2 linked regions of the Homo sapiens genome follow. The protein of the gene in region 2 purifies or fractionates together with the protein of the main gene of each other region. This does not show direct contact. Each region holds a gene or a part of one and is shown on either strand. Other genes may lie near its edges.

Region 1 (3,500 bases), on a different chromosome or scaffold from region 2:
GCATGAGCCACTGTGCCCGGCCGGATACAGCTGTTGAGTTTAACATTTGTGGGGTGGGTTGTTTTGTTGTTGAGATGGAGTCTCACTCTGTTGCCCAGGCTGTAGCACAGTGGCACAATCTCAGCTCACTGCAACCTTCACCTTGCAGATTTAAGCAATTTTCCTGCCTCAGCCTCCAGAGTAGCTAGGATTACAGATGTGCACCACCATGCCCTGCTGATTTTTCTATTTTTAGTAGAGATGGGGTTTCACCATGTTGGCCAGGCTGGTCTCGATCTCCTGACCTCACGTGATCCACCCACCTCTGCCTCCCAAAGTGCTGGGAGTACAGGCATGAGCCACCACGCCCAGTCAACATTTATATTTCAAGAAATGTTAATAACTACTTTCTGAATATTTGTAAGACACCCTTGTGGTAATACATACTTAAAACTAAATTGTTCATTGATGTTCCCTAAATGAGTCTGTTCCTTAATGACCCATCACCAATTCATGATGAACTTCAACAAAGCTTCCAAAAGTCTCACAATTCACTTCAGCGTTGGGAGCACTTGAAGAAAGTAGCCAGCAGATATCAGGTATATGCCACTGAAATCTGTATTACAGATATAATAATGCAATTCTTAATTAAATTGATTGCTTTGCCTAGTCAGTTAAAGATGGTTGAAGATCGTTTTTTTAACTTTCTTTAAAGAAATCTTCAACAGTTCCTACTGATCCTCATGTTGGCCTTGTATCTGCTTTTAGAATAACATCAAAAATGACAAATATGGACCCTGGCTGGAGTGGGAGATTATGCTCCAGTACTGTTTTCCACGGCTGGATATCAATGTCAGCAAAGGAATCAATCATCTACTGAAGAGCCCTTTTAGTGTTCATCCTAAAACAGGTACTACACAAGGAAACTAAGGAAAACTAAAAGAAAAATGAGTTGCTATTGGCTTTAGTAAGCATGGCATTAGGTCTGAATATATATAATGTCTATGATTTAAAGGTAGAAGAATTGCTCTGTCACCCAATACCTAAGTCAGTTAAGTAGCTACCAGATGAGTTTCTACTATGTAACTGTTTTTCAGTTGGGTTTCTGAGGTTCCATATTAGATTTGGAGAGGACCATCAAAATCTTAGGACAACAGCTCTCATTGTACAGATGAGAAAACAGTGGCCCAAGATGTAACCCATCCAAGGTCATAAAAAAAAAATTGTGTGTGACTGTATGTGGTAGCTTGCTCCTGTAATCCCAGCACTTGAGGAGGGCAAGGTGGGCAAATCACTTGAGCCCCAGAGTCTAACACCAGCCTAGGCCACATGTCTAAACACCCTTTGTACAAAAAATACAAAAATTAGCTAGACGTGGTGGTGCATGCCTGTAGTTCCAGCTACTCAAGAGGCTGAGGCAGGAGGATCACTTGAGCCTGGGAAGTTGAGGCTGCAGTGAGCTGTGATGGTGCCACTGCACTCCAGCCTGGGCAACAGAGTGAGACCCTGTCTCAAAAAAAAGAAAAAAAGAAAGAAATGAAATGAACTCTACTCCTAGCACTGACAAAAACAAAAAAAAATTTTTTTCGAGAAAGAGTCTCACTCTGTCACCCAGGCTGGAGTGCACTGGTGCAATCTCGGCTCACCGATCGGCTCAAGCGATCCTTCTGCCTCACCCTCCTGAGTAGCTGGTACTACAGGCATGTGCTACCACAGCCAGCTAATATTTTGTAGACAGGGTTTTGCCATGTTGCCCAGGTTGGTCTTGAACTCTTGAGCTCAAGCAATTCACCTGCCCCAGTCTCCCAAAGTGCTGGGATTACAGACAAGAGCCACTGCGCCCAGCCTCATTACGTCACTTTTGAGATGTGTTAAATTCTATATGGTATCCTAGGGGGGTATTATAAAAGAGTAGAGGAATTTCTATTTTATTTCCTAAATGCTTTTTAAAGGTGTCTGACATGTGGGTATCTGTATTGATCTCAAATAAACCAAGCCAATGTAAATATTATAGTTTCATCTATTTTGTTCTATTTTCAGGACTCACTAACTCTGAGATTGTTCTGAACTTAAATATGGAATATTTAAATATACTTTATTTCTAAATATAGAAATAAAAGTAGGGATAAGAGCAACTGGGAAATAGCTCAACAGTCTTCACATTTGCTTATTGGTTTTTGTTTTTGTTTTTTTTCTTTCCTTTTTTTTCGAGACAGAGTCCCACTCTGTCACCCAGGCTGGAGTACAGTGGCGCGATCTTGGCTCACTGCAGCCTCTGCCTTCCAGGTTCAAGCAATTCTCTGCCTCACCCTCCCAAGTAGCTGGGATTACAGGTACCCGCCACCACACCCAGCTAATTTTTGTATTTTTAGTAGAGACGGGGTTTCACCATCTTGGCCAGGCTGGTCTTGAACTCCTGACCTTGTGATCCACCCTCCTCAGCCTCCCAGAGTGCTGGGATTACAGGCGTGAGCCACTGCACCTGGCTGGTTTTTTAAAGAGAAATAAAAGGCATGCTGGACATGGTCATTCACACCTGTAATCCCAGCAACTCAGGAGGCTGAGGCAAGAGGATTGTTTGAGGCCAGGAGTTCTGGGCAACATAGTGAGACCCCAACTCAACAAAAATTGAAAAACTGGCCAGGCCAGGAGCAGTAGCTCACGTCTATAATCCTAGCACTTTGGGAGACAACTGAGGTGGGAGGATCACTTGAGCCCAGGACATCAAGCCTGCAGTGAGCTATGACCATGCTACTGTATGTACTCTAGCATGGGTGACAAAGTGAGGCATTAACTCTAAAAAAGAGTAAGGGCACAGCTAATGTGAAAGTAATTTATATTTCTAAATACTCTTCTTAACAGATAAGTTTAACCCTTTGTCTAAGCCTTAAATAAAAATTTTAACCAAAAATAACCTGTAGGAGATGACTATAATGATTTATAGTCCACAATCATCAGTTTATAACTTTTGTGTCTTACAGGTCGCATATCTGTGCCTATTGATTTGCAGAAAGTGGACCAGTTTGATCCATTTACTGTTCCGACCATAAGGTATGTTTCAGATCATTGATCACTCCTTGTTTGTAATTGTTGTTATGAATTTTAAATAAATTGAATTAGCCTCCTTAGAGAAGTAGTTGCATGGGAATGGTATATTTGGTTATGGAAACCAAATAAGGTTCAAAGGTTAGATGACGATGCCCTAATAGAACAATACAAGATTTTCACCTGCTGTTATGTAAGAAAAAGATTTTAAGGTCAAGTAAATTTAGGAAATTCTGACTTAAACAGATTAAAAGTATCTTTTACTACAGTATTTCACAGTCTTTCATATGATAATATGCATGAAAAACTCCAAGAAGAGATCATGGTGTTTAGAATATCCCAAATTTAGCTGGCCGCATAATTTTTTTACAGTAAATTTTATGGGATTCACATGCTATTATACACTGGATAATGCTGATCAGAAACCAACATTAAACTTCTCTTGTTCGTGGTGAGGCGCGGTGGCTCATGCCTGT
Region 2 (3,500 bases):
GCCTCCTGAGTAGCTGGGACTACAGGCGCCTGCCACCACACCCAGCTAATTTTTTTTGTATTTTTAGTAGAAGCAGGGTTTCACCGTGTTAGCCAGGATGGTCTTGATCTCCTGACCTCGTGATCCGCCCACCTCGGCCTCCCAAAGTGTTGGGATTACAGGTGTGAGCCACCATGCCAGGCCCCAACATTTTATATTTAGTTGTTTGCTTAATATTTCTGCCCTTCACCAGAGTGTTAGCTTCTTGAAGGCAGGAACTTCGTGTGTCTGGGTCACTGCCAAACCCCTCAGGCCCAGAACAGGCCCTGGCACATAATAAGTGCTTAGGTAGGCCGGGCGCAGTGGCTCACACCTGTAATCCCAGCACTTTGGGAGGCAGGAGGATCACCTGAGATCAGGAGTTCGAGACCAGCCTGACCAACATGGTGAAACCCCTTCTCTACTAAATGAAAAAAATTAGCCGGGCGTGGTGGCGGCCACCTGTAATCTCAGCTACTCAGGAGGCTGAGGCAGGAGAAACACTTGAAACTGGGAGGCCGAGGTTGCAGTGAGCCGAGATTGCACCATTGCACTCCACCCTTGGGCAACAAGAGTGAAAACTCCATCTCAAAAAAAAAAATTTTTTTAGGCTGGGCGCGGGGGCACATGCCTGTAATCCCAACACTTTGGGAGGCCAGGGTGGGTGGATCACCTAAGGTCAGGAGTTTGAGACTGGCCTGGCCAACATGGAGAAAACCCGTGTCTACCAAAAATACAAAAAAAATTAGCTGGGCGTTGTGGTGGGCACCTGTAATCCCAGCTACTCGGGAGGCTGAGGCAGGAGAATCGCTTGAACCTGGGAGGCAGAAGTTGCAGTGAGCCGAGATCACACCATTGCACTCTAGCCTGGGCAACAGAGCGAGAGTCTGTCTAAAAAAAAAAGATTTAAAAAGTGCATAGTTAATATTTGTTGAATAAAACTTGGGATGTATCATATCTTGCAGGTGCGTTAGGGCAGAAAAATTAGTGTTGCCTCCTTTGTCTGAGTCTGAGTTTCCTTATCAGTTAAGTTAAAGGGCTTATTTGAAATTCTCTGTTATGTGCTGAGATGGAAATGGTGTTAGAAGTTATAGGATGCGGCCGGGCGCGGTGGCTTATGCCTGTAATCCCAGCACATTGGGAGGCCAAGCAGATCACAAGGTCAGGAGATCGAGACCATCCTGGCTAACACGGTGATACCCCATCTCTACTAAAAATACAAAAAATTAGCTGGGCATGGTGGCGGGTGCCTGTAGTTCCAGCTACTTGGGAGGCTGAGGCAGGAGAATGGCATGCACCCAGGAGGCGGAGCTTGCAGTGAGCTGAGATTGCGCCATTGCACTCCAGCCTGGGCTACAGAGCGAGACTCTGTCTCAAAAAAAAAAAAAAAAAAGGAAGTTATAGGATACAGCATAGATAGGCAGGGTATTGGTGCTGTTATTCTCCTTTTTTTACCCCCTTTTATGCTCCTCTAGGTCATTTTTCCACCCCAAGAAAGAGGGTAAAGCAAAGAAGCCTGAGAAGGAGGCATCCAATAGCAGCAGAGAGACGGAGCCCCCTCCAAAGTATGTCACAGGGCTGGGATATGGTGAATTTTTTCCTTTAGCAGTCAGGATTGTCTTGGTTGCAAGTGTTCAAACCTAATGCAAAATGTCTTGGGGCCCAAAAAACTTTTTCAGCCAGGTGGCCAGAAGTCCAAGAGCAAGAGCAGCTGCAGGCACAGCTGGATCCAGGGCCTCGGAGTTGTCTGTACGTCTCTGTTTCTGCAGGTCTTGGCCTCGTTCTAGAACCAGACATTCTCCATAATGCAGAGAAGCTGGCCGCTGGCCACTGGCCACGTCTTGATGCTGTCTCATCTAAGTAGAAGACAACAGTACTCTTTTTTTTTTGAAATGGAGTCTCACTCTCACCCAGGCTGGAGTGCAATGGTGTGATCTCGGCCCACTGCACTCCAGCCTGGGCGACAGAGCAAGATTCCATCTCAAAAAAAAAAAAAAAAAGGCATCCCAATAGATGCTGGAGACCAATGGCAACCTTAGGCAGGGACTCCATTTGCTCCTCAGCATCACCCATCACAGGGCAGGCACTCTGGAGACTTCCAGAGATGTGTGATGGGTGGGTGAGTGGATGAGTGGGCGGGTGGATTAATGCACTGATGGATGAAATGATGAGATTTGCTGAGGAGACAACCAGAAAATGTTCATTGGATGCTTGAAAGGAAGGGAAGGAAACAGCAAAGAAACCAAAGTGTTTGCGGGCAGTGCCCCCACTCTGCCTGCTGTAGTCGCCCCTTTACACCCCCATTTCCCCACCTTCCAGGGCGGCACTGAAGGAGTGGAATGGAGTGGTGTCCGAGAGTGACTCTCCGGTGAAGAGGCCAGGGAGGAAGGCGGCCCGGGTCCTGGGCAGCGAAGGGGAAGAGGAGGATGAAGCCCTTAGCCCTGCTAAAGGCCAGGTAGGTCCCCATCACCCTGCCCATTTTTACCAGAAGAAACTAATTCCCATTAACCTTTGGAACAGAGTGCAGCAGCTGTTCAGGAGAATTCTGGAGAAATTGCCCGGGAGAGGTAGATGTGTTTCCTGGTTGTGTCGGGGGCAGACACAACCTGGTCCTAATTGCCCCTGCCCTAGGACCTCGGGTGGGCTCCTTCACCACGTTAGGTCTTGGATGCCTCAACTGTAACATGCAGCTCCTGGTAACACCTTCCTCATAGGGTGACTGGGAAGATGAAATGAGTCGATTTACATACAGATCTGAGAATAATGCCTGATGGTAAAACAAGGGCTCAAGGCCCAGCACAATGGCTTACGTCTGTAATCCCAGCACGTTGGGAGGCCAACGTGGGAGGATCACTTGAGGCCAGGAGTTCGAGACCAGGCTGGGCAACATAGCGAGACCCCATCTCTACAAAAAAATGTTTTAAAAATTAGCCAGGTGTGGTGGTGCATGCCTGTGGTGCTATCTCCTTGAGAGGCTGAGGCAGGAGGATCGCTTGAGCCCGGGTGTTCAAGGCTGCAGTGAACTGTGATTGTACCACTGTACTCCAGCCGGGGTGACAGAGCAAGACCTTGCTTCAAAAAAAAAAAAGCAAAAAAATAAGGGTTCAAAAGTATATCTAGCCTCTCCTGTGGTCAGAGGGCTTTTTAACTTCTCCAAATACATTGGACCACTCTCTTCCCCTGTTTAAGTCATTTAATGCTTGTTCATTGCTTTGTGGATGATGTCCAAAGCGTGGTGCTGCTTATTCTGTCAGTGGTGAGGTCAGGTCCTGTGACTCCCTGCCCAAACCCCCTGGTATTACCACCACAGGCCAAAGCCAGGCCTTGTGGAAACCTCCCAGGCCCCTCCTGCTGCTCCTCTCTTCCCCCGCCCATCACATCTGCAGCCGCATCCACAGCTCCTCCTCAGCTCGCTCCATCCTGGCTTCCCACACCCACCAGGTGCACTTCCACCTCTGGGCCACTACCTTCTTTCCCAGCCT

Evidence for each region.
Region 1: the proteins of LIG1 (region 2) and PRIM1 fractionate together in Homo sapiens (co-fractionation; one large-scale study listed by BioGRID). This does not show direct contact.

What each region holds. Positions count from the first base shown.
Region 1 is NC_000012.12:56,738,824-56,742,323, reverse strand, and holds part of PRIM1 (DNA primase small subunit), read left to right. Parts: intron 1-486; coding exon 487-578; intron 579-747; coding exon 748-889; intron 890-2,960; coding exon 2,961-3,030; intron 3,031-3,500. UniProt on the Homo sapiens protein: Catalytic subunit of the DNA primase complex and component of the DNA polymerase alpha complex (also known as the alpha DNA polymerase-primase complex - primosome/replisome) which play an essential role in the initiation of DNA synthesis.
Region 2 is NC_000019.10:48,160,345-48,163,844, reverse strand, and holds part of LIG1 (DNA ligase 1), read left to right. Parts: intron 1-1,493; coding exon 1,494-1,583; intron 1,584-2,337; coding exon 2,338-2,473; intron 2,474-3,500.